Regions from separate parts of the Homo sapiens genome. Here region 1 is reported to be linked to region 2. Evidence: microRNA targets listed by miRTarBase, many of them from high-throughput screens and not tested one by one. Region 2 holds a microRNA gene; the other region holds the end of a gene's coding sequence.
Evidence for each region. The annotated mature microRNA hsa-miR-6883-3p reads UUCCCUAUCUCACUCUCCUCAG and lies in region 2 at 1,977-1,998, shown strand. An mRNA with a match to its seed (bases 2 to 7 or 8) in the 3' UTR can be bound and repressed. Matches are read on the target gene's strand: a 7mer-m8 pairs with bases 2 to 8, a 7mer-A1 pairs with bases 2 to 7 and ends in A, and an 8mer does both.

Region 1 (4,114 bases), not on the chromosome of region 2:
ATGGTCAAGGCACCTATGGGGCAGCTGCTTATGGCACCAGTAGCTATACAGCTCAAGAATATGGTGCTGGCACTTATGGAGCTAGTAGCACCACCTCAACTGGGAGAAGTTCACAGAGCTCTAGCCAGCAGTTTAGTGGGATAGGCCGGTCTGGGCAGCAGCCACAGCCACTGATGTCACAACAGTTTGCACAGCCTCCGGGAGCTACCAATATGATAGGTTACATGGGGCAGACTGCCTACCAATACCCTCCTCCTCCTCCCCCTCCTCCTCCTTCACGTAAATGAAACCACTCAAGTGGTAGTGACTCCAGCAGACTTAATTACATTTTAAGGAACACTGTCTTTCCTTTTTTTTTCCTCTTCGCCTTTTCTTTTTTTTTCCTTTTTTCTTTTTTTTTTTTTAATTTTTCCCCCCAACCATCGTGATTTGTCTTTTCATGCAGATTAGTTAGAATTCACTGCCAGGTTTCTTCTGCCCACCAAAATGATCCAGTCTGGAATAACATTTTGTAAAAAAAAAAAAAATATATATATATATATATAGCTGACTGGAAGAGATTAATTTCTTCCCCCAACTTCTTGCATGTTGAAGATATTTGAGCTATTTTTCATCTAAAAGAGTAAGGTATTAGGCCCTTTTGTGGGAGCCCCATGTTTTGTTTTTCTGAGTTGGTGGGGAGGGAGGGAGGGGGAGGGCTGAATTGTTTTGCAGAGGAAGATGGCATCTGTGCTTTAAATTTCTCATTACTGGGTTAGAAAACAAAGAGGGATTGCCCTGCACATTTTCTTTTGTGCTTTTAAATGTTTCTTAAGTTGGAACAGGTTTCCTCGGGCCTGTTTTGACTGATTGCTGGAGTGCATTTGATAGTTAAAAATTACTAATTGGTTTTATTTCCCTTCACACTCTGCCTCCCCACTTCTCCCCCCGTTACTGAAAAATAACCATTTTAGTGTCAGGCTAGAAATTGAATTGCTGAGTTTTGTGTATCCTTTAAATTAAAAACCACAAGTGTTTATTGTAGTGGTTAAACTGTAGCATCTCAGCATCTGGGTGGAAGCTGCCTATATTTCTTCCCAGTTTAACTGGGGACCATCTGTGAAATTAATTTTCCATCCAGACAGCTGCTGTGAGCAAATGAACATAAATGCTCGCTGGAAATTTACTAACCAGTTTTTATATTGACCTGCAGTGTAAAAAGCACATTTAATTATAAACAATATATTCAAAATGGGCAAATTTTATTTTCAAATGCAGTGTAGAGCTAGATTAAAAGCAACTCTTTGCCACCTACTCTGCCCTTTTGGCAAAGTTACCTTGAACAAAGAATCTTAAGGGTTTATTAAGAACTCTTTATTTTCTTCATACCCTGTTCTCTGCAGTGCTTTCTAACAGCTTCTGGGTGCAGATTTTCTTCGGCATCCTTTTGCACTCAGCTTATTACAGGTAGGTAGTGCTTAAGAAAAGTCATGGAGGACTAAAGCCTAAGTCCTTTTCACTTTTCCTCCATCTGAAGGTAGGTGAGTTCATCCTCTTCATGGTAATGCTGTTTTACCAAGACTTTATAGCAGATGGACCCAGAAAGAATTTTCTGCTATTGTGTTCACTACAACAGGATAGGGACATCAGACAGCCCCAGAAACCCCTTCCAGATCTGATATGGGACTATTAATTTTTATGCTGTTAATTGGTATTCATTCACAATGCAGTTGAAGGGGGAAGGCTCCACTGCATTCTTTGGCTAAGGCCTGAATGCTTGCTCATCTGTAAGATCTATACTCGAGGTTTTGTTTTCCTTTTAAAATTCTTTAGGGAGAGAGGGATGGTTTCTGAGGGGTTCTGAAAGTATGATTCAATGTGCAACATACAGGTAGGTCTTCAGCATAAGCTGAAATATATGCATGTAAAAACTTTGACATCTTTTTTTTTAATTTTCCACTTTCTTCTTAACTTTACTTCTCTTTTTGTCCCCCCCCCATCTTACAGAAGTTGAGGCCAAGGGAGAATGGTAGGCACAGAAGAAACATGGCAAACTGCTCTGTGCTTTCAAACCAAAGTGTTCCCCCCAACCCCAAATTTGTCTAAGCACTGGCCAGTCTGTTGTGGGCATTGTTTTCTACAACCAAATTCTGGGTTTTTTTCTTCTTTCTTTAAACATAGAGGTACCACCACAAGGGATGCCCTACTCTCTCGCAGCTCTTGAAAGCATCTGTTTGAGGGAAAGGTCTCTGGGCAAGCAAGTGGTTATTTGGATTGCTTGCTTCCCTTTTTCCACCTGGGACATTGTAATCATAAAATAACAGTAAATTCCAAACCTCAAAAACTATTATGGCCTGAGCACAGCTGAAATCTAGCAGAGTTTAACTCTTCTGCCTCCATGTCTGTCACTTATAATTCAGGTTCTGCTGTTGGCTTCAGAACATGAGCAGAAGAATCGTTTTATGCTAGTTATTGCATTCATGGTTGAAACTCAACTTAGGGAAAGGGTTCCAATGTATTAAGCAATGGGCTGCTTCTCCCCAATCCTCCCTAACAATTCGTTGTGTGGACTTCTCATCTAAAAGGTTAGTGGCTTTTGCTTGGGATCAGTGCTCTCTATTGATGTTCTTGCTGGTCTCCAGACACATTCCTGTTGCATTAAGACTTGAAAGACTTGTAGATGTGTGATGTTCAGGCACAGGATGCTGAAAGCTATGTTACTATTCTTAGTTTGTAAATTGTCCTTTTGATACCATCATCTTGTTTTCTTTTTGTAGGTATAAATAAAAACACTGTTGACAATAAGGTGTGAGCTTTTATTGCTTAATTCTCTGAATAATTCAACGTAGACGTCTTAAAACAGTTTTTGTTTCAAGACAAAGATGGGGGATATTGGATTGACTGATTACTTTCGCACCTAAAACTGAAAGGAAAAAACTTAATACAAGAATTGGAATTGAAAACCCTAGCAGGATACCTAGTAGGTAAGGGTTTGGATATATCTGTATCTGCTCATAAGTAAAACAGTGATTGTGCAAATGGTACTCGCCTAAGTACCATTAGGTTATTGGTATTAAGGTACTAAGTACAAGGCAGGTATCAGCCACTGGTTTGAAAAAATTCAAACCAGTAAAAGATGAGTCACAAAACTCCTCCAGCCAAACCTGGTAAATTTGGTTTGCTTCTGGCCTGAAGGCAGTGTGAAAGTGAAATAAGTTTCACACTTAAAACTAGCTGACACCTTTATATCTTGACCACCTAAATTTGGTCATCTACCTGGAAAGTGGAAATTCACAAGAACGTACCCTAATATTTTAACTGGTCTTTAGTTGGGACATTCTAAGAGGAGGGACATTGTTCCAGATTGGGGTTGACTTGCTCATCATGAGTCTTGCCCTCAGGCCTTGGAGAACAATCATTTATGTTTTTTATTTCGTCGGTAAGACACCTTAAGGTTTCTTGTTGCAGTGAGGCACCATCTTTGTGCAGGTGGCCGAGGTTTTTTATGACCTTACAATGGGTCTTTAAGGGCGATCTATTGATGAGAAGGTCTTCTGGGTGGGATGATCAGGTTTTGCTGAAATCCACACTAAACACTTTTCTGGTTTTAACATTTGATCCCAAATTATGGATAAGTTGCCAAAGAGAACATTCAAAATAGTTTCCTTCATGTGCTTGTTAAGGCGTAGACTGTCTCTGAAGGTCCTCAGATTGGCATTGGAAGACTTAACTTCTTTCCCTTAAGGACTGGAAGAAAATGGAGATGAAATAAGAATTTACCATCTGATGAAAGGACTGCTTTATAACTTGATGCATAATCTTGGTATCATCTCTTAATGGCCGGCTCACAGTATATGTTCGATTGTTAAAGCAAAGGGGGAGTCCATCTCCGGTTGACTATGGACCTACTGATCCCCGACTTGGTTACTGGCACCCTTCCCCCCAGCTGTAAACTTAGCGATTGGCCTCAAATTGTCTATTGTACATCTCATACAATCAAATCAGCAGTCCTTCTCAAGTCCTAGAACTTGTGTCCACATGTCTTTCTACCTAGAGCCTTTTTCCTGATCAACTGCAACTGCCCCATAGCTAGTCACTGTACTTGGACTGCTTTCTACCCTACATAGCAGCTAGT
Region 2 (4,221 bases):
GCAGATCTGTAAGGATGTGCATCTGGTGAAGCACCAGGGCCAGCAGCTTTTTATTGAGTCTCGGGCCCGGCCTCAGTCCCGGCCCCGCCTCCCTGGTGAGTTGATGATGATGTGTGGGTGAAGAGACAGACCTGGGGGGTCCCCTGACCTTCACCCCCAACCCATTTGCTGTTTTTTTCCATGTGAGCTTGAGAAGGCTATTTTCCTCTTTCTCTCTTTGCCCCAGCTACAGGCACGTTCAAGGCCAAGGCCCTTCCCTGCCAATCCCCAGACCCAGAGCTGGAGGCGGGTTCTGCTCCCGTCCAGGCCCCACTAGCCTTGGTCCCTGAGGAGGCCGAGAGGAAAGAAGCCTCCAGCTGCTCCTACCAGCAGATCAACTGCCTGGACAGCATCCTCAGGTAAGGCCTGCCAGGCATCTTCTCCACCTCGGGCTCTAACCCTGCCCACCCCAAGCCCTGCTCTGATGCCCTGTGCTGTGTCCATCCCCAGGTACCTGGAGAGCTGCAACCTCCCCAGCACCACTAAGCGTAAATGTGCCTCCTCCTCCTCCTATACCACCTCCTCAGCCTCTGACGACGACAGGCAGAGGACAGGTCCAGTCTCTGTGGGGACCAAGAAAGGTAAAGATCCAATGCACCCTGCTCCCACTGCCCCGTCCTGGCCTGGTGGCCCTGTGTCTTTTCCCTTCTGCTTCTGGGCCCTCTTGCTCTGCCCTGCTCTCCTCCCCAGCCTCCTGGTCTCCAGACTGTTCCCTCTGTTCCCTACCACCATCCCCTTCCCCTTTTCCCTGGGATCCTCTCTCCTGACTTCCCAGTGGGGGTGGGGATGGTAACTGGCACCATCTCTCTGCACAGATCCGCCGTCAGCAGCGCTGTCTGGGGAGGGGGCCACCCCACGGAAGGAGCCAGTGGTGGGAGGCACCCTGAGCCCGCTCGCCCTGGCCAATAAGGCGGAGAGTGTGGTGTCCGTCACCAGTCAGTGTAGCTTCAGCTCCACCATCGTCCATGTGGGAGACAAGAAGCCCCCGGAGTCGGGTATGGGTGTGGAATTGGGGGGCAGTGCTTGGGCTCCACCGGTCTCCCAGCTAGAGCTCCCTCCTGCCTTTCCCCTCCCCTCTAGGGCCTGATGGAGAGAAGGAGGCCTCCCTTGACCTGGGGCTTGGGGCTACTGCTTCTTGCTCTCCCCTCCCTGCCAGGCTTCTCGGCTTTGCCCTTCCCCTGTTCTGCTTCTCGTATTGTTACTGTCAGTTGAAACACAGAGTCTGGGATAGAGGGTTTGCCCTGAGGTGCTGACCACACAGGGTCTGAAGGCAAGGAAAATTGAACATCCCTGAAGGGTCTTTGGATATTGACCTTGAAAATCATGAGGGGCTGGGCATGGTGGCTCAGGCCTGTAATCCCAGCATTTTGGGAGGCTGAGGTAGGAGGATCACCTGAGATCAGGAGCTCGAGATCAGCCTGGGCAACATGGTGAAACCCTGTATCTACTAAAAATGCAAAAATTAGCCGGGCGTGGTGGCGCGCGCCTGTAGTCCCAGCTACTCGGGAGGCTGGGACAGGAGAATCGCTTGAACCCAGGGGGTGGTGGTTGCAGTGAGCTGAGATCGCACCACTGCACTCCAGCTTGGGAGAAAGAGTGAGACTCCATGTCAAAAAAAAAAAAAAAAAGAAACAAGAAAATGTGTGAGGGAAGGCCAAGGGGTGGGCTTCTCTTCCAATGAGAGTTGTGACGGGGTCATCCCAGTAGAGTTCCTGGCAGGGAGTGGCCACTGGAGGGGCCTGAGTATCGTCTCTTCTTCTGGGCCAGCTTTGCATGGAGAGGAGGACCCAGGGCCAGCCGTTGGCAGAGAGGTGACCAAGAAACGTACATGGAGACCAGGCTTGGCTGTGGGGCAGAGCTGCCAGGGGTTGGCTAGGCTATCAGACAGGGAGGGTGTGGTATGGATGTGTTGACCCCTGAAGTGGTTCTGATGACCTTTCCCTATCTCACTCTCCTCAGACATCATCATGATGGAGGACCTGCCTGGCCTAGCCCCAGGCCCAGCCCCCAGCCCAGCCCCCAGCCCCACAGTAGCCCCTGACCCAGCCCCAGACGCCTACCGTCCAGTGGGGCTGACCAAGGCCGTGCTGTCCCTGCACACACAGAAGGAAGAGCAAGCCTTCCTCAGCCGCTTCCGAGACCTGGGCAGGCTGCGTGGACTCGACAGCTCTTCCACAGCTCCCTCAGCCCTTGGCGAGCGAGGTAGCCACCTGGGGCCTCCTGGAGCCTGCCCTCTGCCCAGTCTAGGACTGGATTGTTGGGGGGTGGGTCTTAAGGGAGGTGTTTCTGCTCCAGGGACCCAGGCTGGTGTTGCTTCCACCACTAGGCCCTGCCTAGGGACAGGCCCCTCGCTAGCTTCTCCCCACTAGGATGGGGTTCCGGGCTGCAGCCAGAGGAGGGCAGCCTGGGGGGATGGCACTGGGATGGGCAGGCAGAGGTGCTGTCTCCAGGTAAGCGACTTCAGGCCTAGCCTGGGGGCAGGGGCAGGAAGTATGCCCACTTAGGAGTCAGTTGTCACTGATGAAGAGACATGCATAGATTCTGGGCCAACTCTGGGTGGGGTCTGGGCTTCAAGGGCAGGTGGAAGGCAGCCCCTCCAGGTGCCTGAGGGAGATCCCCTGCAGGCAGACGCAGGACTCAGGACTGGGCTTTCCAGCCCCACTCTTCACTCCATTGCAAGCTAGGCAGAATACGGCCTCGATGGGCAGGAGGAATGCCTAGGCTGGCAGTGCCCACAGGAGTTTGGCGGACCAGAGCCATCTGTCCATGTGTCCATGGACTCACCCTGCTTCCTCCATCTGCCAGCATGCCTCCATCTTCCGCACACCCCCAGCTCGACCCCTCGTGTAACCTCTCCCTGGCCTTGTTCCTTTCTCAATAAATCCCCTTGTCCCTGGCTCCTGTGATTCTTCCCTGAAGGTGCCCCACCTCCTGAGTCCCCCGTTCTGTGTGGGTTGAGAAGCTCTCTCTGGGACCTTGGCCTGTCCTCTCCCTGGTCAGCGTGTCAGGGCAGTGTGGGTAGCAGGGGTACTAACCCCAGGTTGAGGTCCTTGCTAACCCTAGTCTCTCCCCACAGGCTGCCACCACGGCCCCGCACCCCCAAGCCGCCGACACCACTGCCGATCCAAAGCCAAGCGCTCACGCCACCACCAGAACCCTCGGGCTGAAGCGCCCTGCTATGTCTCACACCCCTCACCCGTGCCACCCTCCACCCCCTGGCCCACCCCACCAGCCACTACCCCCTTCCCAGCGGTTGTCCAGCCCTACCCTCTCCCAGTGTTCTCTCCTCGAGGAGGCCCCCAGCCTCTTCCCCCTGCTCCCACATCTGTGCCCCCAGCTGCTTTCCCCGCCCCTTTGGTGACCCCAATGGTGGCCTTGGTGCTCCCTAACTATCTGTTCCCAACCCCATCCAGCTATCCTTATGGGGCACTCCAGACCCCTGCTGAAGGGCCTCCCACTCCTGCCTCGCACTCCCCTTCTCCATCCTTGCCCGCCCTCGCCCCGAGTCCTCCTCACCGCCCGGACTCTCCACTGTTCAACTCGAGATGCAGCTCTCCACTCCAGCTCAATCTGCTGCAGCTGGAGGAGCTCCCCCGTGCTGAGGGGGCTGCTGTTGCAGGAGGCCCTGGGAGCAGTGCCGGGCCCCCACCTCCCAGTGCGGAGGCTGCTGAGCCAGAGGCCAGACTGGTGAGCACTGACCCCTGCGTCTGCCTGCCAGCCCCCACCCCAGCCCCGCCCCTCTGCCACCCTGTGCTGCCTGCTGTCTCTGCCAGGCTGGCGTCTCAGCCTCCAGGAGGTGGAGGGAGTCCCCAGCTGAATTTCTGAATGAGGCAGAAATTGGCTACCTCCTCTTTGAAGGGACAGTCCTGTCTGTCTGACAGGTGGTGAGGACATCTCAATAACTTCTGAGAGAGCATCTGTCACTTGGAAAGGGTCTGGCCTCACATCCCCACTCTTCGCCAGCTTTCTTCTCTCTCAGCCTGGCCCTACTGTCACGAAGTGGGGAGCAGAGACCACTGGGGTTGGATGTGCCTCTCCCCACAACCAGTAAGAGCAGTTGAAGGGAGGCCTAGGTGCTGACCCCTCCATCCCTCCTTGCCCCCCTCCCCTCCTCCAGGCGGAGGTCACTGAGTCCTCCAATCAGGACGCACTTTCCGGCTCCAGTGACCTGCTCGAACTTCT

Region 1: miRTarBase lists DDX17 as a target of hsa-miR-6883-3p. Seed matches in the 3' UTR shown: 7mer-m8 at 1,617-1,623 and 7mer-A1 at 2,477-2,483.

What each region holds. Positions count from the first base shown.
Region 1 is chr22:38,482,108-38,486,221 of GRCh38, reverse strand. DDX17 (DEAD-box helicase 17) reads left to right here. Exons shown (of 13, transcript NM_006386.5): 13 at 1-2,784. The coding sequence ends at 287. It overlaps KDELR3 (KDEL endoplasmic reticulum protein retention receptor 3), which reads right to left. Exons shown (of 5, transcript NM_006855.4): 5 at 2,775-3,726. The coding sequence ends at 3,686. Among named protein-coding and RNA genes, the nearest start is that of KDELR3, 16 kb to the right of the region's middle.
Region 2 is chr17:8,142,771-8,146,991 of GRCh38, reverse strand. MIR6883 (microRNA 6883) reads left to right here and starts at 1,921; the gene lies at 1,921-1,998. It overlaps PER1 (period circadian regulator 1), which reads left to right. Exons shown (of 23, transcript NM_002616.3): 14 at 1-95; 15 at 227-398; 16 at 490-620; 17 at 855-1,034; 18 at 1,999-2,241; 19 at 3,116-3,726; 20 at 4,157-4,221.